Linked DNA regions of Homo sapiens: all the other regions are linked to region 4. The links come from fine-mapping of genetic effects on gene expression. A gene starts in region 4. Each other region holds a variant in brackets. All regions are shown on one strand. Distances are from middle to middle. Region 1 overlaps ZFHX3 (zinc finger homeobox 3). Region 2 overlaps ZFHX3 (zinc finger homeobox 3). Region 3 has its middle 37 kb from the start of HCCAT5. Region 4 holds the start of ZFHX3 (zinc finger homeobox 3).

What was found. PIP is the estimated chance that this variant, and not a neighbour inherited with it, causes the effect.
Region 1: its variant is fine-mapped to the expression of ZFHX3 in monocytes after LPS (Quach 2016, PIP 0.95). The same link has a PIP of 0.9 or more in monocytes after Pam3CSK4 and monocytes after R848.
Region 2: its variant is fine-mapped to the expression of ZFHX3 in fibroblasts (GTEx, PIP above 0.99). The same link has a PIP of 0.9 or more in sun-exposed skin and unexposed skin.
Region 3: its variant is fine-mapped to the expression of ZFHX3 in whole blood (TOPMed, PIP above 0.99).

The regions. Positions count from the first base shown.
Region 1 is chr16:72,974,690-72,982,689 of GRCh38, forward strand. All of the region lies in intron 1 of ZFHX3 (zinc finger homeobox 3), which reads right to left. Among named protein-coding and RNA genes, the nearest start is that of ZFHX3, 69 kb to the right of the region's middle. The variant T/C (reference allele first, on the strand shown) is at 3,576.
Region 2 is chr16:72,986,958-72,994,957 of GRCh38, forward strand. The region is part of intron 1 of ZFHX3 (zinc finger homeobox 3); the gene reads right to left. Among named protein-coding and RNA genes, the nearest start is that of ZFHX3, 57 kb to the right of the region's middle. The variant C/T (reference allele first, on the strand shown) is at 3,420.
Region 3 is chr16:73,125,718-73,133,717 of GRCh38, forward strand. It overlaps a transcript of ZFHX3 not described here. Among named protein-coding and RNA genes, the nearest start is that of HCCAT5, 37 kb to the left of the region's middle. The variant G/A (reference allele first, on the strand shown) is at 3,939.
Region 4 is chr16:73,043,874-73,051,873 of GRCh38, forward strand. It overlaps ZFHX3 (zinc finger homeobox 3), which reads right to left and starts at 4,255. Exons shown (of 10, transcript NM_006885.4): 1 at 3,879-4,255. LOC124903719 (a long non-coding RNA gene) reads left to right here and starts at 3,705. Exons shown (of 2, transcript XR_007065116.1): 1 at 3,705-3,927; 2 at 6,253-6,915. RefSeq lists enhancers at 685-1,185, 3,549-4,084, 4,621-5,156 and a silencer at 3,846-4,695.

The sequences.
Region 1 (8,000 bases), 69 kb before region 4:
GGGACACTCAACAAAGCAGTAATGGCCACTGTAAGGTAGAGACATTGGTAAAGGCATGAAAAGGGGATGCCTACTGCAAAAGCAAAATCGTACACGGGGTCTTCCCCATGCCTTGACTGGGCACCCTCGAGAGACCCCTTTGGGATGTGCGTACTAAGCTTCCACCCAACTTCCTATCTGGTGGAGGCATGCTATGCACAGAGACCCCATCACTGAATTCCCTCCTAGATAACTCACTGCACTAGACTGAAGGCTTGAGAGGTTTATTTCATCATGAGTAGTCCTCAAATCCTAGAGGCCCAGAGAGTTGCTCCTATCTCGATTCTCTTTCTTAGGGTAAAGTGAACCGGCAGCAAGAACTACCACCAGGACGCAAGGGCTTTGAGACAGACTGAAGGGGGCATGGATTCTGCTGGCACTCTGAGTTTGTTTGAAAGACTTCCAAATTCCAAAGCTTAAAACCCTATCAGGGCCAGGTGTGGTGGCTCATACCTGTAATCCCAGCACTTTGGGAGGCCGAGGTGGGCGGATCACTGGAGGTCAGGAGTTCAAGACAAGCCTGGCCAACATAGTGAAACACCCTCTATACTAAAAATACAAAACTTAGCCGGGCATGGTGGCAGGCGCCTGTGATCCCAGCTAACTCAGGAGGCTGAGGCAGCAGAATCACTTGAACCCGGGAGGCAGAAGTTGCAGTGAGCTGATCGTGCCACTGCACTCCAGTCTGGAAGACAGAGTGAGACTCTGTCTCAAACAAAATAAAATACAATACAATCAGGAGAGAGGGGTGTACAGGGGGAAGAGAGGGGATCATGAAACGTGATCACATGTCCCCTTCTTCATGGCCCCTTCTCCATCCCACATGGTAATTACAAAGCCCATTATTTGCACTGTTACTTTTAATCAAGAAATCCATATTGAGACATACTTACCACTGGCCACTTCAAAGAGCGGCCCTGATAGTTAGCTAAAATAACAAAGGAAAATTTCTTCTTGAAGTGTAAGGATCCAAGAGCTCACACTTCCTTAACCTTCCAGAAGCCACCCAGAGAACCAAGTGACTGTGGGCAATAATTACACCCTCACCAACTCAGCAAAAATGGCACAGATGGTCTTTCTCCTCTTGCTGCTCCCAATGCTGCGTTTGGGTCAACAGCTGCTAAGAAGAACCACCAAGGCCACGTTAAATAGTACTTGGATTAATTATGCTTGAAAATCTCTTATCTGAGCACTGCTAAGACAGAACAATTGAGTTTGGGAATGAGTGTGGTTACATATTTTTCCTTAATGGCTTCCTGAACACCCTGGTTAGGTCTGGTCCCAGGGGAGAAATTGCCAGCTCAAGTCATAAAATGTGATCAATGTAGATCAAGACCCTGTGCTAAGTGTCTAGGATGAAAGAGGGGAAGCGTATTTGTGCAAACACACAAACATATGAAAAATGCATGTTAACATAAAGAACTTCAGCTTTCTTTCTGAAGCTGCACCCTCTCTCCTTTCATGCCTAGAGCTCTGCTCATTCCACCAAAACTTCCAGCCAGCAGTTCTAATCTTGGACAGCGCCAGAACAAATTTTGGCAACTGTTCCTGCAGTTCCAAAAGATTCCCATGTTAAGCCATGGTAAGATTCGGGGAATCAAATCTGGATGGTGAATGGGGCCAATTTCTTTGACTTCAATAACACAGAGGCTACTGGGGTTCCAGCCCCAGTGGTCATAGTTTTAAGCTCCTCTGCATAATACTTATCCAACTACTCACTGGTTGTTCTAATGATTTTTATTCATTCGTGCCACAATATTTATTGAGTGCCTACAACATACACAGCGCGTCCCTCCTGTCGATACAGACTCCTACGAGCTTGCTCTCAGTAGCGTCCAGGCAGGCAAAGGAAGGAACTGGAAGGCAGTGATCAGGACCCCGGTAGAAATGGACTCAGCACTCCACGTGGCCACTGGGATTCACTATGTCAACACAATTATCTGGGTTACTGCTCGCCTCATTCCAGAGTCTACCTGCTCTGATGCCAGAATCTGTCCTTCTATTAACAAGGTGTGGTCACAGTGAACTGACTGAGGTCCACTGTGTTTAAAAACACTGACCATGGCATCTCATGGCTGGACAAGTGGCACCGCCGCCCTGAGACCCTGCAGTGCTGGGGAACCCGGAGGCCCTGAGACCTCGGTTCAACTCCGCCAGTGCCCCGGGAGTTCTAACCCCCACGGGGGTCTCGCCTTCAGTCCACATGGGAGTCACCCATCAAAGGCATTTTAGGGATATTTTAGGTTGACCATTTCCTGACAGCCCAACATGTTTTTCTCTGGGATGAAGGGCATGCCATCCCACAAATGGTGATGAGAAATTGCAGAACCACTGAACCGGCCTACACATAAGCATTTCTTCTCCTTTGATGTCGAGTTGACAAGAAAGGATATGATTTCATTTCTACTGGCTCCTCTTAGGTAACCCAACTGGTTTCCCACTTCCTCACCTGCCCTTTGCATTCCCATCCTGGTTTCTTTGGCCTTGGTTCCTCTTTAAGCTGGGACCAGCGACTTTATAAACTCCACACACAGTGCAGCAGGTTCCAGACGCAGCGTCTGGCCTCCCCAGGTCTTATGAAGAGGTGCTGAGGGTTGGCGGGTTGACACACTCACTGCACTGCACAAGGAGGTGGCTCAGCCCAGCTTTCACGTGACCAGTGTCCATTTATAGGGTCGCATGCTCACGACACATGCTGCATTATGGGGAATGCTGCAGAGAGGGGAGTCTTATTCTTAAAGGAGTTAGAATTGAAGCATAAAGTCTAGGAACTAACATGAACCACCTCTTAGAAGTCTATGTACAACCTGCACTCGACTTTGAGTTGTTCCCCAACTATTAGTTCCCTGTCGTGGGTCAGTGGGGGGAAAAAAATCACTCTCCACACAGCTCTTGAGGAGAGGCTGGGATCTCTACGATTCACTTGGTGTCTACCTGCAGGGGACTCAGGGAAAAAAAAAGCAAAAGCCACACCAGCATGAGCATATCACACAGAAATTCTACTGACCCCAAAAGCGGGGCAATGAAAATCTGTGCACAATTTCAAACCATGCACCCCAGGGTGGAGGGGAGAGATGGAATTCAGGGGAAGTGAGAAGAAAAAGGGGAAGAAGAAAAGGACCAGGGATTTTTTTTCTTTTTTCTTTTTTTTTTGAGACAGAGTCTCACTCTTGTTGCCCAGGCTGGAGTGCAGTGGCACGATCTCGGCTCACTGCAACCTCCGCCTCCCAGGTTCAAGCAACTCTCCTGCCTCAGCCTCCTGAGTAGCTGGGACCACAGGCGCACACCACCATGCCCAGCTAATTTTTGTATTTTTAGTAGAAACGGGGTTTCACCATGTTGGCCAGGATGGTCTCAAACTCCTGACCTCAGGTGACCTGCCCGCCTCATCCTCCCAGAGTGCTGGGATTACAGGCGTGAGCCACCGCACCCAGCCTGGGATTTTTTTTCTTTCTAAGGAACTCTTTCCCGAGCATTCACGACCCAGCCCTTTCTGCTCTGGGATGGAAAGTGTTACTCAGCTACAAGGCCTCTTG[T/C]TAATTGTGGGTTTTTATTTTTATTTCCTATTACCCTCTCACACGCCTGATGAGATTATTTTACCGGAACTGACACAGCTGGAAGCAGCAGGCATACGTGGAGCCTCTGAGGAGGTGATGCAATTTCATTTTCATTGATCAGAAATCAGCAGGGCAGTAAGTGATGGGAAATTCCATTAGAAGAAAACTTGCAGGCCATAAGCCTCAACTTCCCAGCCACACCCAGGACCCCTTCCCCCACTCCCTGACCGAGGTCTCGCCTTCCTCTGGGCTAAGTCCACACTGCCCAGAGGATTGGAAGTGCTCTCCTCCCAGAAAAATAAAAGACCAGCGCCACGCTGCTGGCCTAGGAGAGCATCGGCCGGGGGTGGGAGACATCGTTGGACTCTGAACCAACAAGGCACCTCGGTGCTTCTCTATGGATTACAGCAAAGTCTTCCAGGGATGCAGAATAAACATCCTTACAACCAATCTCCACAGCCCCTTGGGATCCCCTTCCAAATGTCAACAAACAAGAAAAGGGGAGGCCACTATACAACAGTTGTAAAGATGTCCTCCAGCCAGTCATAGAGATGATCCTGAAGGCACTTACCATTTATTGAGTGCCTACTATGTGCCAGGCACTGTGCTAGGTGCTTACCATGCCCAGACTCTGGTCCTCACCTAACCCTCTAGGACAGATGTTCTTCTCCCTCTCTCTCCTGGATAGATGAAGAGGCAGAGGTCTAGGAAGGTAAAGGAGAGAACCAGTTGGTACCAACACCTTCCTGAGGGTCAGGCCAAACTCTCACAAGCAGCAAAGGAAAGCTGAGTGTCAACAGGAGAGCTCACACCTGAGTCCTAAGAGAGCGTGGAGCACATGTGATGGGCTACTTTACTCTTTTACAGATGTAGCAGATGATAGATTGTGACTAATCCACCTCCATCATCCTCAGCACCCAACAACAGCGCTCCTGTGTCCAAGGCTGGAACCACAGGTGGGCTTCTCTTCGGAATACGCAGAATGGTTACTGTTTTAGCAGTTAAGATCCCTCCAACTGTTTGCCTGCCAAATATTGCTTTGCTTACCTAAGGCCTATGGAAAAAACAGCAAGGAGCTCCTCAAAAAGACAAGTTCTATGAAAAACACCACCAGCCAGGTGGCTCTCCAGACCTCCACAGGCCATTTCGCCATAGGAAAGATGGATCACAGAAGAACCAGGGCACAGTCCGAAATTAACACTGCTCCCCACAACTCTTCACTGTTAAAATGGAAATTTTACATGGACCAGTGATGGCAATGTGTCCAACCAAAATCTCTCAGGAAGCTTTTATTGAGTACCTAATCTGTGCCTCAACAAAGCAAAGAATATATAAGACATGGACCCCGAAATCAATGCGCTTACAGACTAGGTGATGGCCCCATAAGAATACCTAGCACACAGTTATTTATTGATCCTGTTTACAATATACAATACAACATCATAGCATAAATTGAGGCCCGGGCAAAAGAAGAAAGAAAAAACAAAACTGGAGGAAATTTTGAACCAAAAAAATCAAGCTTAAAATGCATGTAAGAATAACCTACACACTGAGTCAAATTTGGCTCTAAGCTTTCTAAAAGTCAAGAGGATAAAGGCATGCTAGGTATGCTTTTAAAGGTACACTATTTACAATGTCCAAGAGAAAAAAAAATCAATTGGTCAGGATTATTTAGCTCCAGTAATTTCTCAACTGCTGAGAATGGGATAAGACTAGGTGCAAGTAGGGCGTGCAGCCCTATTTCCCGGATCTCTTTGTGGAGGTAATAATGAGAAGGCTTGAGTGTGAGGCCAGCTAGTCTCACTGTTTCCACTGATAGACAAGAATACTGACCCCACAGGGTGTTGGTGGTTTGCTGACGTCAGAGAGCCGGTCAGTGGCAGAGCTAGGACGAAGACCTGGGTATCTTCACACCACACTAACAGTGCCTTCCTCCCACATGAAGCTACTCCGCATCATCCTTTTAAATCCACAGGCTGGCTGGATGGGTAGGGGCTCACATGGACGTTGGGGAAGGAGGAGAACTGTTCTAGATTAAAGGGGACCTAAGAACCAAACAACAGCTAGATGCGCTATGTAGTTTCGTATGGATGCCAGTTCTAACCAGCCAAATGTAAAAAGCCATTTTGGGGACAATCAGATAAGTCTGAATTGCAACTTGGGATTAGATCATGTTAATAATGTCAGTTTTGGCCAGGGGCAGTGGCTCAAACCTCAAGTATCAGCACTTTGGGAGGCTGAGACGGGCAGATTGCTTGAGCCCAGGAGTCTGAGACCAGCCCGGGCAACAAGGTGAAACCCCATCACTACCAAAAGTTAAAAAAAAAAAAACAAAAACAGCTGGGTGCAGTGGTGTGCGCCTGTAGTCCCAGCTACTTGATTGCTTGAGACCAGGGAGGTCAAGGCTGCAATGAGCTGTGATCGCACCACTGTACTCTAGCTTGGGCCACAGAGTGAGACCTTGTCTCAAAAAAAGTCAGTTTTGTTAGGGAATAATATTATGTTTACATAAGAAAATGATGAAGCAGCATGATATCGTTGGCTTCAAAATATTTCAGCAACGGACAAAAAAGACGGAACAAATCTAGCCAAAAGTTCATTGTTAAGTCAAGGTGATAGAACTATGGAAGGGTTCATTATATCATTCTTTCTACTTTTATACAGTAATTTTTTTTTTCCTTAAAAGTTACCATTCGCTATCAGGAACATCTTCTAAAAGAACAGCATTGACCAGAACCAAGAGATTCAGTCTTGAGTCAATACGTTCATGGCAAGCCAAGCCTTTTTTCAAAGAAATGTGGGTTTCTCCTTTCTTCCGAAGGGCTTTCCTCCCAGGCCGGGCCCCAGCTATCTCTAAAGCTCCTTTCAAACACCACCATCTACTGACCCCCACTCTTACTCCTTCTCTTAGAAGGTACCAAGCACCACCAGGCTGCTAATGTTTAAAAGAACACAGAAAAAGACAATATGCATCACGCCTGGGCATAGCACCTGACAGCCTTTATAAGTGGTAGCTATCACGATCATTACTGAGCAAAAATGCGCCTGTTTACAAAAGTTAACAGCCTAAGGTTATATAACAGCTTGATTTCAAGCTTTGAGCCAAAGTCTGATTAAGAAGAATATACATCCGTTGAATTAAAAGCCTCCACTTCTTGACTCAACGGGTTAAGAAAATATTTTTAACACTTTCAGTGAGTTTAAAAAATCAGATGTTTACCAGCCATTGTTTTTGCGCACACTGTCTTTTATCTCAGCATGAATGTTTTATAAGCACCTTAATTGCTTTGCAAAGCCTCAACTGAACTGCTCCCAATTGGGCTGGTTCTCTAGTGTGGCTCTGTAGGTAAACGGCCCAGTGGTAAGTGGGCTTCTGGCCATATGTGGGCCCATACCCACCCCCAACATCCAGCACACCCTCCAACTTCAATACGCATCACCATGCTGCAAGCTCCCCAGAAGCACTCTGTGCAATGGACTTCTTCACGGGGACCCCAATATGTGACCAAGGGCACAGTCACACCCAGCACCAGCCTTCCAAAGGGCACATAACAATGCTTCTTCCATGCACACAGCGTTTTACACATTTTCCTTTTTTTTTTTTTTTTTTTTCCTGAGATGGAGTCTCGCTCTGTCATCCAGGCTGGAATGCAGTGGCGCCATCTCGGCTCACTGCAACCTCCACCTCCCGGGTTCAAGCGATTCTCCTGCTTCAGCCTCCTGAGTAGCTGGGATTACACGCACCTACCACCATGCCCGGCTAATTTCTGTATTTTTAGTAGAGACAGGGTTTCACCATGTTGGCCAGGCTGGTCTTGAACTCCTGACCTCAGGTGATCTGCCCGCCTTGGCCTCCCAAAGCGCTGTGATTACAGGAGTGAGCCACAGCGCCCAGCCTTTCTACACATTTTCAAACACTCTCATTTGACCTCTAACAATCTTTTTAAATAGAATGGGAATCATATTTTCGATTTTACAGGTTTAAAAAAATAATTCATTCAAACATCTGAGTGACTCCTACGAGTCATTCTTTCTCAAGGTCCTGCAACTGGTTAGCTGCAGAGCAAGGACCAGGACACAAGCTACAGTTTCTACTGTGGTGCTCTTGGCTCCATGAAGGCATCATTTCCTTAAAGAGAATCACCAACTCACAGAGAAACAAGAAGAATAAAGACAGAAACCTACCTGCTGCATGCCTAAGCTTCCAAATCCTTCCAAAACATGTATCATCTAAATACGAGAAAAAGATAGGATGCCAAAGACCCAAAGGAGGTATTTTCATTGATCACACCTCAGTGGAGTAGAGTTATACACACCACCAAATATTGAGTTGCTCCACACAGACCAGAACAGTGATGGCAAGACATTAAGTCGTAAATTTTTACATAGGCCAGAATGGTGGAG
Region 2 (8,000 bases), 57 kb before region 4:
TAACACGACGAAAACAAAACCCCACCTCTACGAAAAACACAAAAATTAGCAAGGTGTGGTGGCGAGCACCTGTAGCCCCAGTTACTCGGGAGACTGAGGTGGGAGAATCACCAGAGTCCAGGAGGCTGAGGCTGCAGTGAGTTGTGGGAGCTGTGATCCAGCCACTACACGCCAGCCTGGGCAACAAAGTGAGATCCTGTCTCAACACAAAACAAAGAACTCAAGTTTTAAGGAGAATTCAGTAGTCATTCCATCAGCAGCTAGAAGGCAAGCACCCATCCCTCACTCAACTCTCATAGCAGCTAAGAATATTTTACCTGTAATAGACTTCTACAGCACTAGGCCTTCAAAACAACATTTGCAATTGAAGGGACACCACTTTGAGAGCTGACAGGCCAAAGTAAGATGATGTGGAGGCTGCTTCCACCTCCCACCCTCCCCGATCAAAGCATGGAGAAATCATTCACCAGTGCTCCTGGTCTCCGTTGCCACTGCCACCTCAGTTTAGGTAGAGGGACCTCTACCTGCCCTATTTTCTTCCCATTCAGCTGCAACCAGCAGCTCTGGGAGGTCATTGCCCCCACACTGTGCCTGTGTACACATGTATGCTTCAATGGTGTGGACCAGTACAGACATGCAGCTCCTTTATAGACATCTGGTTCTGCCCCACCTACTCCCAAACACACAGAAATCAGAACACTGGAGCCAGTTTTATGTAGAGTATCATTCGTTTGCCAAAGACCTTGCCATGAACTCATGGATACCACAGCATGGCTGGAAGGGATGCACCAGGGATTCCTTTAACCTGGCTACCTGCTCTTAGAGGAACTATTTGGCAACCAGGAATGGCCGGAGGGAATCTGAGGCTTCCCTAGGACTGCCTTTCATGAATCACCTGCTCCTAGGCAAAGTGGCAAAGGACAGACAAACGCCACCTACTGAACTCCAAGCTGGACGCCCTATTCATTCACATATGCTCACGGGGCCCATGTTAACAAACACCTCCCTGGATTTGATACCAAAAGAAAGTTTAATATTATATGTGGCTAATTCTGCTGTTACCTTTTAACCTCACTTGCACATATCTGTCCTCCCAACAATAACTTCAGCAAAAAACATACCCTAAGAACAATATGGTCCACACTTGGAAACCCGCCCAACAGGGCCAGTCGAGCCTGCATAAGTGCTAAGAACCATTTAGGAGCACTGTAAACCATTAAGGCCATTAGCTCTAATTTGACCTCCACAAAATACATCAACCCACTAGGAACAAATTTAGAAGCTTTCCAAAGTCAAGTTCTCAAAACCTGAAAGGCTCATAAGCACAGTCTAGGGCAGGGAACAGCCAGCCAGTCCCGGAGCTACTCTTCCCGCTCCCACCTTTCCTGCAGCTGACTGAAGGGTGCATGCTTAGCTGGTACACGGACCCAAGATCCTTCTCCAGCCACTGGATCAGGAAGCTGTGGCCATCGAGGGGTCGATATGCAGGCTGGAACCCGCCAAACATTTCTGATTAAGGGATTCACTCCAGCCTTCCTCTGAGCTCACACCATATACAATCTTCCCTCTGCACTGCTCTAAATCACTTCTTTTCAAATAACGCGGATTTCTGGATTCATTTCCAAGTGATCCTGATTGGAATTCAATTGCACTAACTGGGTCCCTGCAACAGGTCAGGGTTCACCCAGTCTTTCAATCTATAAAGGCAGGTATCATGTACATTAAGAGCCATGATTCCCCCACATTAATACATGTGTCAACACAATAAATAATTTCTCCAACAAAACTTATAACCATCAGCATATGCTATAAATTTAAATTGCAAAATCATCATAATTTTTCATCTTTATTCTTCACTGATAATTACTGACTGCATTTTTTAATACTGATGGCATCATCTTGATGAGGAAGCAGGCAATGAAATAAACTACGGTACTGGCTAGGCACAGAGATCACACTTACAATTCCAGCACTTTGGGAGGCCAAAGTGGGAGGATCACAGGAGCCCCTGAGTTTGAGACCAGCCTGGACAACATAGGGAGACCCCATCTCTACAAAAAATACAAATATTAGTAGGAAGTGGTGGTGCACACCTGTGGTCTCAGCTAAGAGAGGCCAAGGCAAGAGGATCACTTAGCCCAGAAGTTTGAGGCTGCGGTGAGCCAAGATCACATCACTGCACTCTTGGCCTGGGCAAGACAGCAAGACGCTGTCTCAAATTAAAAAAAAAAAAAAATTAAAACAGAGCCAGGTGCGGCTGTTCATGACTATAATACCAGCACCTTGGGAGGCCGAAGCGGGTGGATCACCTGAGGTCAGGAGTTTGAGACCAGCCAGGCCAAGGTGAAACCCTGTCTCTACTAAAAATACAAATATTAGCCAGGCGTGGTGCTGCATGACAGTAATCCAAGATACTCAGGAGGCTGAGGCAGGAGAATTGCTTGAACCCAGGAGGTGGAAGTTGCAGTGGGCCAAGATTGTGTCACTGCACTCCAGCCTGGGCGACAGACACTCTGTCTCAAAAAAAAAAAAAAGAAACCATGGCACTATCAAACTCCACCAGCCAATGCGAGAAGCAGGCTAAGAACACGCATACTAGGTAAGTGGACAGTGCACATGGATAAGTCAACAATCCTTCAGTTGCTTCAATGACAAAAACATACCACATACTTATTTCACTCATCTTTCCAGGGCAGAAGGAAGAAATAAGTGGGAAGAATATGGGCCAAATGAGTTAGCAGTAACAGGAGAAGCAAGATGCAGCACACAGAGTTCTACAGCCCAGGAAGAATTGCCAAAAGCTGAGTAATCCATTCCAGCTCCACCCTGCATGAATTTCCAGGTATCAAATTATATGTTAATTATGCGGACGCAGAGTTATATGTGGGGAAGTGGTGTTAGTCAGCACCCAAGGGGTGGAAATTCAGTAAAAATTTAGTTTTGTCAAGTATGTTTCATGCACAGGCCTGGGGCTCCTCTGGCTCAGGAAAAGAGAAAGCAGGAGTCAGGAGGCCCAGACCTTTCCCTAACAGGGTCCCACAGCCAATTCGCTGGCCCTCTCTAGACCAACTTTCCCGAATTATAAAATACCACAAGGTTTGGGTTTTTTTCCCCCCACCGTTTCTGTTCAAATCAAAAAGCGCTAAGTCCTGGCTGATTTCTGACTCAGCCAGTCAAAAGAGGGACACGCCTCCCTAACTGCAGGAGGGTGGGGAAGGGCAGCTGCACTCAGTCCGATGGAGGGGAAACCAGTAAACCCGTCCCTTGGCACTGTCACTTGGCAATTTCTGAGGTTTAAGACGACACGGCGTTCTCCCAGGTCCTGGCCTGTAAATGCCAGGGAAACGCATTGTACTTGTGAAGAGAGAGAACACAGAGTTTCGAAACTGCTCTAAAGCCCATGTCTCAGGCTGCAAGAA[C/T]GTTATCAGTCTCACACATCGTGCCCCTGCCTCCAAGGCCCCCATCACCACATACTGATCTTGCCCTGATTTGAAGCGGGCGGGAGAGAGCTATGGGGAAGTCCAGGCCTGTCCCAGCCACGGATGGGACAAACAGACAGGAACTGAGTGCTGAAGACCTTGCTGTAGCTGCTGAGCGATCTTAAAAGGGATCCACCCTGGAGGAGCTGAGCACCCTCTTCTTTCCAGTTCTCCTCACTTTAAACGATTTTTGTCTAATAATGTACCCAACAGGCAGATATCAGAGAAGCACTAAACTAACACCTTGAAATGGGTCAATAATGGCTGGGCGCAGTGGCTCATGCCTGTAATCCCAGTACTCTGAGAGTCCGAGGCAGGTGGATCACTCGAGGCCAGGACTTCGAGACCAGCCTGAGCAACATGGCGAAACCCTGCCACTACTAAAATACAAAAATTAGCCGGGTGTGGCGGCACATGCCTGTAATCCCAGCTACTCGAGAGGCTGAGGTACAAGAATCGCTTAAACTCGGGAGGCGGAGGTTGCAGTGAACCAAGATCGCGTCACTGCACTCCAGCCTGGGTGACAGAGTGAGACCCTGTCTCAAAAAATAAAATTAAAAAAAAAAAAAGAGAGAGAAATGGGTTAATGACAAAGAAGTCCTATACACAGCATAGTATGTACTGTATAGCATTAGGATAATATAGTATAGCAGTCCCTTATCCGAGGCTTCATCTTCCATGACCTCAGTTACCCACATTACAGTACAGTAAGATATTCTGAGAGAGAGGAGAGACCATATTCCCATAACTGTCATTACAGGATATTGTTTTAATTGTTCTATTTTATTATTAGTTATCACTGTTAATCTCTTACTGTGCCTAATTTATAAATTAAATTTTATCATAGGCATGTAGGTAGAGAAAAAAACATAGTCTACCTAGGGTTTGATACTATCCTCCCTCTCAGACATTCCACTAAGTGTCTTGGAATGTCTCCCCAAGGATAAAGAGGGACTGCTGTCGTGGCTAGGAGTATATGCTCTGAGCTGGCATCCCAGCGCAGAGGCCATTTAACAGCAGCAAATTTGCTACAGACTTTGGGCCTCAAGTTCATCACTCATATGATGGGTGTAGGATCATCTTTACCCCATAGGGTTGTAAGGATTAATGAGACAGTGAAGTATTTAGCACAGTAGATGCTTAATAGGGGTTAGCTATTAATGCTTATATTAATATTTATTAACATTTATACAGACAAAGAACATGTTCTCATGTCATTTGCATAGCAATCCAACAAAGGCCGTATTCTCACTTTTGAGGCTCAGAGAAGCAGAGAGACTTGTCCATGGTCACACACAAGTACTCAGACTTCCAGGCCAGTGTCTTTTCCATCATCTTTTTTCAGGGTGTTTCACCCACGCAACACTGGCCAGGGGCTAGATGGTTCCAGGTGGGAGTGGGTGAACTTTGTACATTCTGGTCATTAGCCAGTCAATGTTTATCTGAGCCAATCCAACCAGCACGAGCCTGTGATTCCTCAGACACAATTGCTCGGGATGATGCTAAGGTGGGTATTTGTGGTTATAACGGAGGATCCCGTGAAAAGAAAAATGTAAAGCAAATAATACAGTATAGGCAGTACAAAGAAACAACAGAAATGATGCCCTGAGTTGGGGGCAGAGGGGTCTCTTCCACTCTCAGAGGCTGTCGCCGAACTGATCTTTCTCACATAGTCAACCATTAAAAGTCCCCAACCCACAGGTCCTAGTTTCTTCTAAGTATCCATCTCCCTCCTTGCTAGAGCAGAGCCTCCAAAATGAAAGCGTTTCTCCGCCTTCCTCCAGGCCTCCTGAGAAAGGTTATGAGATGGGTTATCAGCCTCTCTGACCTCTGCAGCCATCAACAGCACTTCTGCCTCTCCCATCCCCCACAGCGAGGATCCTACAGCCCAGAGCCAGCTTCCCTGCCTTCCCCCATTAATGCCTTTCCCCTCCAACAGCTATCACAAGAGGGCTGTTTAGTGAGAGGACCTCCGGCTGACCTTTGCTGACAGGCTCCAAGCTCTCCCTGTAAACGGATCTAATGTGAGGCTGGGTAATTAGCAACCAAGTAGTAATTGCAGCTTCTAACTATGCTCGGCCAAGATTGCAAAAATTCCCTAGGGGGGTGCCTCCTAGGGATCCCAACCCACACAAAGGCATTTACTCACAGCCAAAAGAGGGGACTCAGCCACATTTCTCATGGAGGCCAGCACTTCTCTAGGTCTTAATTAAAGTGGCACCCATGTAAAGAGACAGACAGCAAAAGGAAATTAGCAAATAAAGGAGACTGACCAAGAAAGAAATGTATGGCTTGCTTGGAACAGCCCATTCAGAAAGGTACAACCTCTCAAGGTGGATGGCCGTGCACACGAAACTCATTCCAGCCGCGGAAGGAAGGCACCAAAGAGCCTTCGAGGGGCATCAAAAACTGCAGAAAGGCCAGGCGCGATGGCCCCTGCCTATAATCCTAGCACTCTGGGAGGCTGAGACGGGTGGATCACCTGAGGTCAGGAGTTTGAGACCAGCCTGGCCAACATGGTGAGACCCCATCTCTACTAAAAATAGAAAAATTAGCCGGGCATGGCGCTAGGCGCCTGTAATCCCAGCTACTCCCAGGCTGAGGCAGGAGAATCGCTTGAACCTGGGAGGTGGAGGCTGTGGTGAGCCGAGATCGCACCACTGCACCCCAGCCTGGGTGACAGAGCTAGTCTCCATCTCAAACAAACAAACAAAAAAAACAAGAACTGCAAAAAGGCAGGACACATGAAGACAGGTCCCCCGGCCTGGCTGGCCAGCCTGGCTGCCTGCTCCTATCACCCACTCAACCAAAATCACTCCTCACCCAAGCACCCTGTATGGCCCACTGTTCGCATCACAAGATTCTAGATGCCAGGCCATGTGGTCTATGCTAAGAGATCCGTAGTATCATCTGCTATGATTTGGTGATTCCACCAGACCTGTCCACAGGCCCCCCTACCGTTAGCTGCCTACATGTATTAACATGTTTCAGAATAACGTGCAAAATCCCCATTGAGAAATAAAGATGTGAGCACTTCCAAATAGAGCAGCTGCCCTCCTCATGACTCTAAAAATACCTAAAACTGCACAAAAAAGAACATTGTCAGACGAAAAGAATCATCCCTCCTCACTCTAACAGGACAACAAGCGATGCCCAACAGCACAGCAGCGCCTGTTTCATCCTTCCTAAGAAAACCCTTTATTTTTCAAGCCCACCACTCCCCACTCCAATTTCCTTTATCTGTTTTGTACTTAAAAAGTCACTTCACTGAACTGCTGTTTGCTCACGATAACTCCTGAACCTCTGTCCTCAGGAGAGGCGGCAAGTTCAGGGGGCATGGTAGCTTTCCCACGTGGACCAGACTTTCTGCCAACCTGAATTACACCCTAGACGTCTTCAAACTTCATTTCCTCTGCCACTGTGCTGCCCGATCCCCCAATGCATTCGGGGCTGTAGAGACTCTCTGGGTTGAATCCAGTTATAAAAACCAGGGTAGCAGCAGCCGAGTGCACTAATTCACCCTCCATTTCCTTCTCCAAACAATTAATATACTTAATAACTCCAGCCCCGACGACAGATTTCTCAGACACCCCTCTATTAACCTCTCCCCGCTACAAGCAGTGGGTCTCCACCAGAATTCTTCTGTTCCCTATCACTTAATCATTTTTTAATCCACAACAAGGACTTTGTGCCACACTGTGGTTTTGTTCTCTCTTAATCTTTTATAAGGGACCTTATCAAAAGCTTTTAGAAAATACAAGTGAATTTTGCCTACCAGGTCATCTTTATTATTTTAGAATTCTTTATGAAGAAATTATAGACTTTAACATTGTAAATGAATATTTAAGACTCAGCATTCACTTAGACATGCAAGTCTGGCTCAGGTTATATTTAAGTCGCTGTATTACTTCCACCTTCAGAAGGATTCTTGTCTGCCTCCTGGGATGGAATGACTTCCCCTCCCCAAGCCCCCAGGTGCCATTTCTGGGATTCCCCCAAGACTTTCTGGACCAGCTGAAATTGAGTCCATATTGAGTACCAATGGGACTTAGAGTGCATTAACAGAACCTCAAACCAAGGAACAAAAGTCATCGAGCCAAGGGGGCCTGGCTATGGCAGCCTATCCGACTCCTACCTCCTCTACCTTTCCCCAGGTGGATGGCAGGGAGCAGCAGGCTCCCCTGCCTCACAGCTGGCCCGCACATCTGCAGGGAGCCAATGACAGCTTCTTGATGTTGACATCACTTAGGCTGCCTCCTAACACTTGTTTGTTGTAGCTATTATTTCTAATTAGCACTTCTCAACAGAACCAGTGCTCAGCACCAAGGTTCCTCCTGACGGAACAATTAAAGAGGCACAAGGGGCGGGGGTGTTTCCTAAAATTATTCTCTTGGCAGGTTTCAAGGTAAATCATCTAGTCAAATGCACATCTCTTCAAGAGCTGCCTGTGGACAGGGTTGAAAAGCTGTAGCAATATTCCGGAACCCCTGTTTGAAAGCATTCCCATCAAGTTAAATGAAG
Region 3 (8,000 bases), 82 kb after region 4:
AGCCTGTAGATGGCCTATTGTGGGAAGCTGTGATCGTGTGAGTTAATACTTAATAAACTCCCATATATATATATGTGTGTATATATGTATATATATATGCATATATATACACACACACACATATCTATTCCATTAGTTCTGTCCCTCTAGAGAACCCTAATACCGTACCATTATTATCCCACTTCACAGATGAGAAATTGAGGCAAAGAGAAGTTAGATAACTCAGTCAAGGTCATACAGTAATAAGAAATGGAGCCAGGATTTGAACCAATTTCAAAGAGGGTGTGGGACACAGCATTTGTTTCTTAGGCACATAGCTGAAAAATGCACAGAGAGGAAGCAGTGAGTCATCCACAGGGACTAGTATGGGGTTTGTGCTAGAGAATGGGGAAAGACAGAGAATGGGGAGAGAGCCAAGGACCAGAATGATGGGTGGAGGAATTTGTCCTCCATTCTGGGAGGCTCTGGGAAGCCACTGAGGACTTCAGAGAAGAGAAAGGCAATCACAGCGGGGCACCAGGAAATTTATCCGTGTGCAAGGCCAAACTAACAAAGCAGGGAGCAACTGGAAGCCAGGCAATCAGCGAGAGGATACTGCAGAGGTCCAAGCACTAGGTGATGAGGGCTTGAATGAGGATGATAGCAGCCTAGATGGAGGGAAGAGACAAGGGCATTGCGCTGCTAGGGGAAGCACAACAGGACTTGGGGACTGAAGTACTGGATGTGTCAAGCGGGGACTGAAGAAACAGAAACAGATGGGAGGTTTGGGAGCCACGTGATAGGTGAATGATAGTATTAGATGTATCATTCAGCCACACTTAGGGTACACGTTGGAAAAAAAGTGTACGTCAGCCAGTCTTGTGTGTTCTTTGGTTGCAGTGCACATGTTAATAAGTTGTACCACTCCCACACACTGCAGTCAGTTGCGAAATAGCAATCTATTTTGCAATATCAGCTCCTGGTAAATTTCACTTGTGAGCCTGGAACAAGGATGGGGGTGGATTCAAGGACCGCCCCCTGAGGTGGTGAGAAGACCAGGGATTGCAGGACATTGTGAGATTCTTTCTGGGGCAGCTGGAAGGATGCTTGGTTGCCCAGCGACAATCCTGCCTCCGCAGCAGTCTTGGTTTCCTGCAGTCCCGGATGCATCTCATTAAAAGGACAGAGGGATGGATGGCCGACACATTTTCTGAAGTGGCATTTTCAACGTCCTGAGTCCTGGTATCTTGTTTATAAGTGGCACTTACAAAATACAAGGGAAAGAAAAAGAAAACGGGAGAGGAAGAAAGGTCTCCTAGGATCTCAAGCATGCAGTGCGTGGATCTTGACTCTCCAATTTCAGCTTGTCTAAGAGACGGGGTGCAGGGCCTCCTTGAAATCCACCTGAAATGAATTAGCCTGAAGTAAAAGTAGGTGTTTATCTCAAGTCATTGCCTCAAATAGCTGACTACCTGTTGGAAGAAGGGTCTGATCGATGCAAACCAGAGCAGTCGTGCGTGAGCTGTTACACAGCGGTTAGTATCGATCAGAGCTAAAGGCTGCCGATAGGAATGTGGAGGAAACTGACAGGCAGAGAAGAGGGAAGAAGGAAACAGCCTTCGCTGGTGGCAGCCGTACAGAGGAAAGCCGATAAAAAGTCAATTCCACTTAACTGAATGGCTGCTAACTAAATATTTTTGGGGCCAGAGCCTTCCCAGGTAGTAGCTGGAGCATCTCTGTTCCGGAACTGAGACATCAAGCGAGAGCCGGGCATCGACAGGCAAGATCACTGGTCCCTGGTGATGGATGGGGGAAGAAGAGAGCCCCTGAATGCAGAGATGGGAGGCTTTGGGCTCAGCCGAGCTGACTGGGGCACTTGAGGACAGCCACTGACCACGGAGCACTGCTGGCAGGCAAGAAAGGAACAGGGTGCAGACTGGATGTTATGGAACAGTTGCTGATTAATTAGTTCATTTAAAACCCCGATGCTTTTTCCTGAACCTCACTCAGTAAGGGCTGTTGAAACTAATGGCTGCAGAGAAAGTTGGACAATGCCTGGTCCTATCACAGACAGAAGCAGAATGGTGCCATATAGTGTAGTTAAGAGACTGGCTGATGACTTATTTTCCTGAACTTTTATGCCCTCGGAAGGATTGTAATTCTTTTTCTTGAATTAGATGTGAACATGTAACTTGTTTGGCCAATGAAATGTGAATAGAAGTGATGCATGTCCCTGCTGGGTAGAAGCATTTAATTACTGGTGTACAACCTTCCTGTTCTTTGCTTGCCACTGTGATCCTGCATACTAGTGTTGATATGGATAAGAGTGAAACTATCTGGAATGTTAAGCAAATGGATGCATAGTTTTCCAAAACTGCAATGAATTTTGTGTGAATAAGGAATAAACTTCTATTGTGTCACATCACTTAATTTTTGGCCTTGTTTGTTACCCAGCATAACTGAACTTTTTCTGACTGATACAGGGGGGCTGGGTTTTAGAATCCTGTCTCTACCAGTTGTTACTATTTGGGTGATTTGGTCTATTTCTTAATCCACCCAAATCTTGTTTTATTTATATACAGCACATGAAAACAGCAACAACAACAAATTACCATGTGCTGAATGTTCACAGGTGCAGGCACGGCAAAAGCTCTGCATATATTAACTTGATTAATTCTCAAAGCAACCATGTGAAGAAACTATTCTTGTCTTAATTTTACAATCATGAAACCTAGTGCTCAGAGAGGTTGAAAGAATTCCCCATGGTCACACAGCTTATAAATGACAGGCAGGAATGCAAACCCAGGCAGACCAACTCCAGAGCACTTTTTCTTAACCATTTTCCTATACTGGCTCTCAGCTTGGGTACTTAATAAATAACAGGTACTATAAGCCCAGGAACAAATGACACTGACTGACCCATACTCAAGCACTCTATATGGAAGGAGAAGAAGAAAAGGTTGCATTTCTTTTGATCTTTTACCATTTTATACTCCCTATTCTCTTACAAGCCTCTGTAGAGTTTGATCCTGTCTGAAACATCCTTCTCCGCTTGTTCCCCAAATCCTGGTTGTTTCTGAAAGTCCAGATCAATTCCCCACTCATTTGTGATACAAACAAGGGAATTCCTTAGCATTAGAAGAGACCATCAGAGAATACCTTTTGGAAGAGTTTCTCATCTATATAACGGGGATGGTAACACTCACCTCATGTGGTTGTTGGAGTAATGGTCATGTTTTATCAATTGAACCCCAAAGAGATCCTGGGGAGAAAGGGGCATTACACTGAGCAAGTGCCTACTTACTTTGTGCTAAGTCTCTCCTTAAACCTTCCCCACACTCTTCCAAAGGGGATAACACTGACCCCAGATGACCGGTGGAGAAACTGAGCCTTAAAGAGTTGAAGTGGGCCTGGTGCGGAGGGGCACACCTGTAATTCCAGCACTTTGGGAGGCTGAAGTGGGCAGATCACTTGAGGTCGGGAGTTTCTAAGACCAGCCTGGCCAACACGGCGAAATCCCGTCTCTACTAAAAATACAAAAATTAGCCAGGCGTGGTGGTGGGTTCCTGTAATCCCAGCTACTCAGGAGGCTGAGGCATGAGAATCGCTTGAGCCTGGGAGGTGGAGGTTGCAGTGAGCCAAAATTGCACCACTGCACTCCAGCCTGGGTGGCAGAGACTCTGACACACACACACACACACACACACACACACACACAGAATTGAAGTGATATCTAGTGTCAGTCTCTATTTTCTCTGAGCCCATGAGACCATTTCACAATTTTGAGGTGTAACAGCCTTCTATGTACCTTAATTAGGAGATCGTCTTTGCCCTCTGCTTGTCAAATGCTGGTTGCTTGAGAAATGCATTCCGTTTACTGATATATCAACGTATTGAGGTGTAGTGTGTGCGTGTGTGTGCATGCAGATGTGTGCGTGTGTGCGTGTGCGTGTGTGCAT[G/A]TATGTGTGCCCACGCCTGTGTGCATGTGTGCGCGCATGTGCATGTGTGTGCATGTGTATGTGTGTGTGTGTGTGTGTGTGTGTATGCCCACTCGCCAATGTCTGTGCTCATGCTCCTTTCAACCGATATTTTGGGTATGGGCTAAGGAGAGTGTGCTCAGGCTATTTTAAGTTTTGTACTTAACGCTTAGCAATTTTAATAAACTTCATTCCTTTAGGTAGTCGACTTAATATTTTAAATATGGTTTTAATTAACCATCCTCCTTGTGTTTAAGGCAAAAGCAGGAAAACAGGGAAAGCGTCTAACCCGAGAGCATTGCCAGTGATTCCACTCTTTGTGACAATGAAGGCCAGAATTCCAGAATGCAGAGGCGAAAGCTCTCCCAAAATTGTTTCTTAGGGCATGGACCTATAATACTTAAATCATTTCTAATTCCACTGGGTTCTGTTATCCCAGCACAGACTGTAAACATTTATTTTTGGGCTTTCCCAGAAATGTGTCTTATGGAAGGGATTAGCTGTTTGCGCATGTAAAGTTCCGAAGGTGAGCTCCTCTAACCTAACCCACGTAATTAAAGTGGAAAATTTTTGGTGGAGGGAAAAAAAAAAACATCAGGGAAAATACCATGTTTGGAAAGAGAGCTGTACTCCGACAGTCTCAAGAGATGGCTCTGCGTTCTTGGGCACTTAATTATATCCCATCTTGCTGTGTGCTCCAATGCTTTCATCCTTTTGGTCTTTACAGACAATACCAGGATCCCTGGCACCATACACTCTTCTCCGAGAGGGTCTACAATGTCTAGCTTTGCACTGAGGCAGTAGGCAACTTGAGGACAAGGAGAGTGACACTGGCGTGGAGCCAGAGACTGGGTTTGCCCTATCATTTTAAAACATGATGTTCATTACTTTTTAAAGTGTGGAGTATATAGGGAAGAAAATAACAACAAAACAAAACAATAGTTTGTTTTTAAGATGGAGTCTTGCTCTGTCTCTGAGGCTGGAGTGCAATGGAGGTGATCTCAGCTCACGGCAACCTCCGCTGCCCGGGTTCAAGGGATTCTCCTGCCTCAACCTCCCAAGTAGCTGGGATTACAGGCACCTGCCACCAAGCCTGGCTAATTTTTGTATTTTTAGTAGAGACAGGGTTTCGCCATGTTGGCCAGGCTGGTCTCGAACTCCTGACCTCAGGTGATCCACCTGCCTCGGCCTCCCAAAGTGCTGGGATCACAGGGGTGAGCCAACACGCTGGGCCCAGACAGTCTTATTTTAAAATGCAAATGGCTAGGGGCACTATAAGACATTTGTCACCAACCTCTATGCAACTGCCGCTTTGTGCCTGAGCTGGTGGCGCTGGTTCTGGAGTTAGACCCCCTGGGCTCCAATCCAGGTCCTGTCCCTTGCTGGCTCTTGTTAACTTCTTTGTGTCTCAGCTTCTCTATCTGTAAAGTGGGAGTAATAATAGGACTTGTTTTCTAGGGTTGACATGAGAATTCAATGAAAGAACATATGAAAATACCATGAGCACAAGTCAACGCACAGCATTACATAGCAGGACCTGCAAAAGGTCAGCTACTATGCCTGTTATATATAATGAATGCCTAAATATAAATCATTTAAAAAAAACAACTGCCTTTGTGAAGTACTTAATAAACGCAATTCATGGTCCAGAGTGCTTTATGTACATGACTCATACAATCTTTCATTCAACCCTATGGAAGTAGGTTCTAGTAAGAATCCATTTCACAGAGGAGGAAATGAAAAAGCAAAATGTAACTTGTCCAAGGTCATTCAGCTAGCTCAAGCTGGGCTTTGAGGGCACGTCTGATTCTTCCTACTGGACCAGCTAAGTCAGACAGGGTACTTTTAAGAGGGGAACACAGAGAGACAGAGAGACTTTAGGACCCAGAGATACTAGTCAAAGTGTGAGCTGACACAGTGAGCCTCACAGGGTGGGAGGGATATCCAGAGGAGAGGGCGAAAGCATCAAAGGAGCTTTGCCTTTACCTGATTTTGCCTGGGGCCAGTACAAGATCTGATTTCTTTTGTGGTCTCCAATGTTGCCTGCAGCAGGGAGTTACGAAAAGCCACTGGATCCGAGTCCTAAAACTAGGTACTGTATTCCAGTTCTACCACACATTCTATGATCTCGGCAACTCACATTCCTTTCCCAGCAAGTTGCATTTTCTGGGAAATGGGGATCAAAAATCTTGGCTCACCTACCTCCTGGAGCTGTTGTGAGGCTCACATGTTTGGGGATGTTTAACTGCTCGGTTAACTAGAAAGCACTGCACAGAGATGCTAGGTATTATTATTGGCTTGATGCCTCCCTGTGATGCAAGAGGGATGAGGGTCCGGTGCAGTGGCTCACACCTGTAATCCCAGTGCTTTAGGAGACCGAGGTGGGAAGATTGCTTGAGGCCAGGAGTTCAAGACCAGCCTGGGCAACATAGTGAAACCCCATCTCTACAAAAATTTAAAAATTAGCCCCATGAGGTGGCACACAACTGTAGTCCCAGCTACTCCGGAGGCTGATGTCAGAGGATCACTTGAGCCCAGGAGAATGAAGCTACAGTGAGCTTTGATTGTATCACTGCACTCTAGCCTGGGTGACAGAGCAAGACTCTGTCTCAAAAAAAAGAGTGGAGAGGGGATGCACTTGGTCCTTTAAAACTTTGATTTAGAGAGGACCCAAACTTGTGCCTCCCTGGAGAAAACTTTATGGTGTCAGAGATCCTGGGATTGTCTGGAATCAATTCAAGAAGAGGGAAGGAGACTGGGAGCCTCGTGGATGAAGGTATTATGATAGCAGGTTTCAGGAACACGCCGTAATCAGCTCTCTCTTCTCTGTAGTTCCACTCCTAGCAATTTGGGGCCAGCTGGGGACTGGATGATGTCCTCTCTGATGCATTGGAATTTGTCCTGCTTCATGGTCTGGTCTGCTATAGGACCACATATCACACAGAGACACAAAGCAATTGACAGCATCCCGGCCGTTTCTTACAGATCCCATATCCTGTGTCTAGGCTGTATTTCAGGCCAACTTTTAGTGAAGTGGATCAATGCTTGAAGCACATAATGTAACATGATTCTTCAAGGGTTTGATTAATCGTGTCACAGTCACAGCCTCAGTTCAGGTTCAACCTTTTAAAAGTTTTATTATTGTATAAAGTGATCAATCAGGAGGAGAGGGAAGACAAATGCTCGATGTTGGCCATCTCTCCCTCTCGTCTTCGTCAGCAAGTGTTCTTCTCCTGGTCGGTTTGGCCGATCGTGATGGAGAAATTCATGAAGATGCATGGCACAGCAAAATATGGATCACCAAAGAGTGCTCTGAGTGGAAGGCCAGCTGCTCCAGTGATGAGCAACCTTGGCAACACATGGGAGGCCCCTGGGGTGTTTTAAGAAGTTCAGAGCCCTGTATTTCACCCACAGAAGTTCTGATGCTTTTGGTCTAGGGCATGGTCTGGGCATCTCTTGGGAATTCTAATGTGTAACTGAGTGTTACGGTGGAATTATGTCCATAACCCCCAGTATCCCAGAATGTGACTGTATTTAGAGATAAGACCTTTAAAGAGGTAATTCGGGGCTGGGCGTGGTGGCTTACGCCAGTAATCCCAGCACTTTGGGAGGCTGAGGTGGGTGGATCACCTGAAGTCAGGAGTTCAAGACCAGCCTGGCCAACATGGTGAAACCCCGTCTCTACTAAAAATACAAAAATTAGCCAGGTGTGGTGGCGAGTGCCTGTAGTCCCAGCTACTCGGGAGGCTGAGGCGGGAGAATTACTTGAGACTCTGTCTCAAAAAAAAAAGAGGTCATTAGGGTAAATTGAGGGCATATGGGTGGACCCTAATCCAATAAGACTGGTGTCCTTTTAAGAAGAGGAGATTCGGACACAGACACATAGAGCAAAGACCATGTGAACACTCTGGAGGAAGATGGCCAGCTATAAGCCAAGACGAGAGGCCTCAGAAGAAACCAGTCCTGCCAACACCTTGATCTTGGGCTTCTGGCCTGCAGAATTATGAGAAAATAAATTTCTGTCATTGAAGCCACCTAATTTGT
Region 4 (8,000 bases):
CCCTCTGACAGTTGTTGATTTTGTAGTGCTTCTCTTTAATCTGGATTTTCAAAGTGGCTTGCCAATGAGCCAAGATTTCTGCCTGGGTCTCTCCCTCGGGGCGGTTTGACACAACCGTAGCTTCTGTGTGCTCCTTTCTCAATCTGAGTGGCCTGAGGACACAGGACACTGTGCTTTGGACAGAACAGGCGCCCTTTATGATTTAAACTAGCTCCTGCCAAGGAATTCCCTTGCCTAGATTCTATTAAAACTGGGTTCCCATTTCCCCTGACCATAGTTTTTTAACTCAGGCAGAGGACGGTGGTTCTGAGCTGTGCTGTGATTTCTAATAATAACCATTACCACCAAATTCTCATACCAGAGCATTTGGATACCCCTATGAGGTTCACTGTAATGGAATCTGCCTTCCTGTTGTGTTTTTACAGTAACGCCCCCATCCTGGTTAATTGCACCAGCCTTAGGAACCAGAGCAAGCCAACAGGCCCAAACATCACAGAAATAGGCCAGGCTAACAGCAAGCAATCATTTTAATAACAAATGAAAGCATAAACCACAGCACATACTGTACTTCTTCAGGTTACTGACAGGCATCTTCAGTGTGCAGTACGAGTGAGGGTGAGATGGAGTTTATATAAGTTTGTTCAGACCAGAATCATTGCTGCCTACTTGTAAGTCAAGGCTAAATCCTTAGAGCTGAGAAACAAGTGAGTTACTCTTAAAAGGTGAGTGTTTGTTTGTTTGTTTGTTTGTTTGCTTTGAGATGGAGTTTCGGAGTTTCGCTCTTGTTGCCCAGGCTAGAATGCAATGGCCCAATCTCAGCTCACTGCAACCTCCCCCTCCCAGATTCAAGCGATTCTCCTGCCTCGGCCTCCTGAGTAGCTGGAGTTACAGGAATGCACCATCACACTCGGCTAATTTTGTATTTTTAGTAGAGACGGGGTTTCTCCATGTTGATCAGGCTGGTCTCGAACTCCCAACCTCAAGTGATCTGCCTGCCTCAGCCTCCCAAAGTGCTGGGATTACAGGCATGAGCCACCATGCCTGGCCAAAAGGTGAGTTTTATAAAGACAGCTCACTTTCTTCCCCTTTAAATAATTCAAGCCAGTTCCCTACACTTTTACAAAATGTTGCTTAGTCACTTAAATATTTACTTTTTAAGATGACACTGTTACAACTCTGCAATAAAAATAATTTCTTAAGTAAGGGTCTGCTCTGAGCCCTGAAGCATTTCCAGATTCTTACTGATACTTTGTAGGTGGAAGAAAAAAAGCTCCTACCCCTGAAAGATACACCAAAAAGGAACAACTGCACACAGTGACAATAAGGACATGTTTCCTGGATGCTAGAACTAAGCCACATCACCACTAGCCCTAGAAATACTTTTCCAGCAGTCTGTAATCACAGATTTATTCTAATGAACTAACCACTTTTGGGTCACCAAAGATGAGCCAGGCCGGTCCTGGGAGTGTCTAGCAAGCATCATTTAAAGTCATAATGATGAAAACTAAATCTCGCTTATTTTAGCTCCTTGCCACTGGGCTGTCCAATTGGCACTGAGTTGACACAGCAGTTAAATTCAACCTCAAAGCAGCAAGAAGGCAGGCACTTCACTGTCCTGGTGGGAAGAGCCAGGCAGGGGCCTGTGGAGGGCACCGTTTTAGATGGGCCTTTCCAACCCTCCCTTAACATTCATTTGTGCAAACAAAAAATGGAAGAAAAGGAACCAAAATTAAGTTTCAGGTGGTTGGGGAAGCAGCATGGATTTACATTATTATTATTATTATTATTATTATTATTATTATTATTATTATTGAATAGTTAGCAAGTGTTTCTCAATAGTTCCCTGTTCATCAACACTGTTTTCAGGAGAAATGGAAAACAGTAGCTCTATTTCATAGAAAGTACAGCCATTTCAAAAAAAAAAAAAAAAGTGGGGGGGGGTTGTTGAGAGAGGGAAGTGACCCATGTCATAAAGACAGAAGGTCTCCAAGTCACTTAATTCCTTGTGATTCTGAAAGGGCTGTTTTTAAAGTCTAAAAGTGCTCGCTTCTGCATCTGCTCCATGTTGTTAAATAACACTTGTGTAATTAAATAAAAGAGCCAACTGTGACCCCAGCCCACTCTGAGAGGCACTTTACATGCTTTCTGAAAACTATGCTGGAAACACCATGAGGAGAACTCCTTAGTCCTGTAATTTAGCAAAGGGAGAGAGAAAAAGTTTCTTTTGGCCATCATAGCTACACACTCTCTGAAAGGGTGCCTGCAGGGTCTCTGCAAAACAGAATGAACACAAATACAGGCGTGCAAACATCCAGGTATGTACCTCTCTGTGAAGACCCCATTCTTGAAACCCTTCAATTATTTGGAACCGTGGTCTCCTGACTTCCCTCACACCTCACTTTTGCCTTCATTGTTTTTCATGTTTGAGTAGCAAGAGGGATTCAGAATCTCAGGCTGCCAGTGGCTGTTCTGATAACAAGGAGCAGACTCATGTTTCTTGCTACGGCCTTTCTTGATCAGGTTACCTTGGAAGGTGTATGTTTTCCTACCCAATGCAGTCCCCACCACAGCACTCTCGTGTCCTCCTCCAGCCCAGCCTCCTGGAACTCGTGATTTTCAGGGTTTCCCTTGAAACCTATCCAGAAACCACAGCCATTAACTGAACGTGAAGATTTGACACCTCCTGAATTCAGGAATGAGGGAACTCGAGGGGCCAACTCTACAAACTCGCACCTGCTGCTTGACGGCAAGGAAACAGAGTTTCCCCAGCTAGGGTGAGCTTTAAATTATACACTATTTATTTAGTGACTTGTCTCCAAGGATCTCAAAGCATAGAGAGAAATAAGATGATGTGTAACTTTCTCACAATCTACCTTCAAGGCTTTGCCCTGGTGCATTCTGACAAGCAGGACCCAGTATGAAGGAGAGGCCTTCCTTCTGTGCCCAGGCAGAGCCATCTGTTCTCTCTGGGGTTTTCTGTCAGTGGCTTTAGGGAGTCTTCAAGGACTGTTAAATGACACAGAGGGTGGGGGGAGGGATGACCCTCCTGGATTCACCTGCTCACGGCTTTCACTTAAGCCAGTTTAACACAGGAGGTACCACTGTGCCACGCAATTCCCTCTTAGCACACACCATGCGTGAGCTGCAGTCTTTGCCCTCCAGGCCTTTTCCTATCATAACACAGGTGTGTCCAAGGCAGAAAAGAACATTTTCCAGAAGGTTCGTTTCCCTCCAAGCCTACAATGCTTCTTTTTGTTGTTATTGTTTTTCTGCTACTGACCTAAACATAGGCATTCCTCCTCCTAACAGGATAAAAATCTTGACTCTCTCCTTTGCATCAGCTCCCCACCCCGCCCCTGCCCAAGGAAATAAATGCTCTGACTTTTCCAAGAGTGCGAAAAAACTAAAATTAGAGGGTGGACAAGATGATCTCCAAAGGTGCCCTCCAGCTCCAAAACTCTGATTCTCCCTTTAATTACTCCACAAGCGCATTCTTCACATTGTTTCGAACTGACCAGCGACTTCTCCAGGGCTGAAAAGGGTGCATTTTTAGGCGGAGGCACCCAAACTTCTAAATGACACCAGTACCACAAGTATTCAGAAGGCAGGAACTAATCCAAAAGCAGACTCAGGAAAGGAGGAGGGAGGGGAGGACAGAGGGAAGGGAAGGAAGGAGGAAGGAAGAGCTTTACTGTGTGCCCAGCAGAATTTAGGCGCTCTCACCCTAGGTAGGTGGCAACTGGAGTCTGGGAGTTCAAGTGCATCCAGCCTGCCCTTCCCCCACACGCCCCAAGAGAATGGGAAGTTCAGCCAAGACTCGCAGCACCTGCCCGCGGCTCCAGGCCGGCTGCGCGGACCCGGAGGGAGGCTGCACTCACCTGGCACACCAAGCCTCCGCGCACCTCCGGAGGGAGGCGGCACTTGCAGGTCCGGGGGCCGCGCCGCCATGCGCAACAACGGGAAATTCCAGTGGCACCCGAGCCCCGAGCTCACCCACCCCAGGCGGCATGCTCCCCACCTCCCGCTGGCCCCAGGACTCGGAGGTGGCTCTGGTCAGGAGCAGGGGGCCCGGAGACAGGGGAGGGGAGCTCATGGTGGCGGCAGGGCTGGCGGTCGGCCCGTCCCCGGAGGGAGGTCCCCGGGACGCGGCGGGGATTCACCCACGGGGCGCGGCGCTGGCGTCCGGGTCCCCGGCCTGCCCGCCGCCGCCGCCTCCTCCTCTGCCGCCGCCCGCCCGGAATCGCTTTATGTAAATGAAGCCCAACTCGCAGTTTGCAGCGCGCACCGCCCGGGGAAGGGGGGCGGGCGGGGCGGGGGGCCTTCGGGGATCCACATTACACAGCAACAAAGCGGAAGGTTAATTTGAAACTCACAGCCCCGCTGCCGCTCGGCTCCCCGGGCAAAGCCTGACATCTACAGTCGTGCCGGGCGCAGGCCGGGTTGCTCGGCGGCGACCGCGCCCGCCCGCCCGCAGGGACCCGGGGACGCACAGGGACGCGCGGGACCCGGGCGCTCAGCTGCGCTCGCTCCGCTTGGGGCGCGGGCCTTGGGGCAGGCCGGGGGTCCCGCGCACCCGCCTGGGGCCAGGAACCCTCGCCGCTCGGCCTGCGCCGCCCCGGGAACCGGCCCCGGCGGGAACAAAGCCCAGGCCCTCCCGGAGGCGCTGACCCCTCGCTCATCAAAGGTCAGGGGCCGGCCTAGAATCGGGCGAGAAGAAAGGGACGCGCCCTCGGCCACTAAAAGGAGCCTGAGGCCTCCGAACCGGAGCCATCGCTCCCTGGGCCCCGTCCACGTCACAGCCAGGCCACTCAAGCATGGGGACAGGAGCCAATGTGGACAGGAATTTATTGGAAACACACACCCATCCTATTAACTGCTTTACAGAGCACTTCTGTTTTTCAGTTGCAGAAACTTATAAAAACATCCCCCTGCTCTCCGTTGAGAGTTTAAGGATAGTTTTTGAGGCCAGAGAAAGAGAAAAGGAGAGATCACTAGAAAGATAGGAAGAAAAGAAGTGGGAAGAAAAGGAGATGCAGTCTACCATGTAAGCCTCCAGGCTCCTTAGCCTCACCTTATAAAGCCACATCACCGCAGAGATAGCAAAGATCGTGCCCTTTCCCAGGGAGTTCCTACCGCCAGGGTAAGATTTAAAGCGGCCACCCCAGTTGGTCAAAGTGATTGCTGGGCGCCTTTCTATCTCCCCAAGTTCACCTTTTCCAGTTGGTCAAAGCGATTGCTGGGCGCCTTCTATCTCCCCAAGTCCACCTTTTTCCATTCTCATCTGAAAGCCAGCCCCAAAGAAATCTCACCGGAAGTCCTCTGTCCTCCCTGTCAGAATCCCACCCTCAGTCTGAATTTACTCCCGATTCTCACAGCACAGAAAGGCACCTGCTTTTACCCTTTCTGAAAACCACCCACCCAGGCTGGCCTTACAGCCTGGAGAGTCTTTTCCTCGGGCACAATAATGAACCATGCAAGTGTTAGAAATATAATCAGCTCATGAGGCGAAGAGCAGTATGTATGGAATTGTATTAGCATGAGGCACACACTGACTCGGGAGAAAAAGGGATGCTTAGCTGGTGAAAACCATCACATCCCCGTATAGAAGGCTTTTTGCACAATGTAAGTTGGGTTCAGATTAATGTAAGTATCTAACCTGTTGGGTACAGACAGCCCCTTTCTACATTTTAGTCCAGAATAGATTCTGGGGAAATTTATTTATTTATTTATTTATTTCAGCTAAGGCCCTGGGAGAAAAGACTGCCTCCAGGGAATCATGTCCGATTAGGGACAAAGGAGGGCACAAGCCCAATTCAGTCACACGTGAGAGCACGGGGGCCGGGTGGGGGGAGTTAAGAGCCAACAGGGAAGGTGGAGGATGAGTTTGCAAACCAGACTATGGTCACTGCAGAGCTGCTTCCAGACCACCTGACTTCAGGCCCAAGAACAGGTGGTGTTTTCAAAACACACTGTTATTTATATTGGCCATATAAGTTGAGAACACCTTAAAGAAAACAATTAATAATTTAATTGAAAAAGTGACTATGAATAAGACATGAAGATGACGTATGCTAGCAGGACCGCAAGCAACGTGGCCCACAACGCAGAGATGCCTCTGGCAATCTCTCCGGAAAAACGAAGATTCCTTACCTGGGATAGGTAAGGCCTGCTGGATAAATTAAAGACAACAAGAAAATGTTGATACTCTCAGAAAATCTAATTTTGCTGCTTTATCTTCATTTTTATTAACAGGGGACAACCTCGTAATCTGGTGACATCATGATCCTGGTAGGCCCACAGACAAATACCTTCAATAAAATAAAAGCTAGAAAGCCCAAAGAACAAGCTATTAAAGTAACCTGGGAGGATGCAGCACTGCCTGGGCAGAAGGCCCGGACGGGATCTGCCCTAATACTGCCACTGTCCCAAGAGGCAGACCCTGCAACCTGCCTCCTGCACTTGAGAGGCCTGACAAGTAGAACTGAGAGTGACCCTGAGTTCCTTTTCTTTATCTGGCACCAGCTACACACATGATGAGGCCTAGTCAAGCCTGCCTTTGTTCCAGGCAAAAATTTAACAGGTAATCCACAGGCAGGTGATCTATGGCCTCTGTACATTATGGAAATGAGGGACTACACACAAGCTGGGTGTCACCTCTACTAAAACTCATTTTCCTTATTCATAAAAACAATACCTCTTCAGAGGGAATTGGCAACTTCTGCACTTACATATGAAATCAGGAGTTCCTCTGAAATACTCCTTGCAAATTCTATCCTCCAGCTCTGGAAGCCCTGGCTCTTCGGAGGGCAGCTGCCTGATGTTAAACCCATGGCCTACCCAGCAGTGACAGCCTGACATTCTCATCGCTCCATCCTGAACACTGCTGACAAATAAACCCACTCTCAGAAAAGGCAATTCTTCCCTCGCAGTTCTCCATACCCAGTCTCGTCTCATCTGGAAAGCGTAATTGGCAACAGCCGAAAGGATAAATATTTAAAAATAAATCAGGGAGCGCTAACCCCTTCCCTACTCCTCCCCTTACCCACTCTCCAAGCCAGAGGCCTGCCCCCTAACGCTGAGCTGGCTGGTAAATTACAATGATTCTACCGAGCCAAACCTGCTTGTCTCTCTCTTTCTCTACACATACACACTTACTAATGCTGTATCCTTCCACTTTTGCAAAGGTAAATATGATCTCTAAGATACAGTGGATGTCAGCATTCTGACTTCCAGCGTAACCTGGGCTCTCTTTTCACAGTACAGCGGGTTTAGACAGATTTGTGCACCCTTCCGGGTTCTTCTATTTTTATTAAATTATACGTATACATTGATTTTTAAAACTAGTGCTTAAATAACCCGGAGGCTTTAACAAAGAAAAATCCAGAAGAGGGCAAGAAACAAAAACAAACGTTCCTGAAATAAACAAGGAACCATTTGGAGCTGAATTGGCCTGAGTTCACCCCATGATTTTGAGGCAGTTATATTTAGGGGCCTGGTACCCGCTGGGTGGCCGAGCCCTCCTGGGTATGGAACAGAATGCAGAAGTTCCTCAGAACAGCTCACATTTGCCTTCATAACCATTGGAAGCTGGTGTGCCAAGGCCTGCACACAGATGTTTTGATTCACATTTTTCTGCTGAAGCCTCAAGGCCTCCATCCATCCCTACAGTGCTAATTCCATAGATTAATTTTTACCCCCAAATCGTAGGTGGAACATTATCTAATTTCCTTACCCACCCTCCCCAGCTCAGGTGCTAAATCTGTCAATGATATCCCACAACAAAGATACAAATGAGTAACCATTTTTTAAAAGCTGTGATTTCGGAGAGTTTTTCTAAATTAATTTTAAGTTACAAAGCCCCAAGTTTTAAGAAAGCCAAAATACAGAAGTTGCCTTAAAACAGCTTTACATGTTAGGTAAAGAGCTCTCTCTCTCTTTCTCGCTCCTTCTTTTTTAAACAAAAATATTATTTCTGAAAGGGCAAAGGGAATTTGCCATGC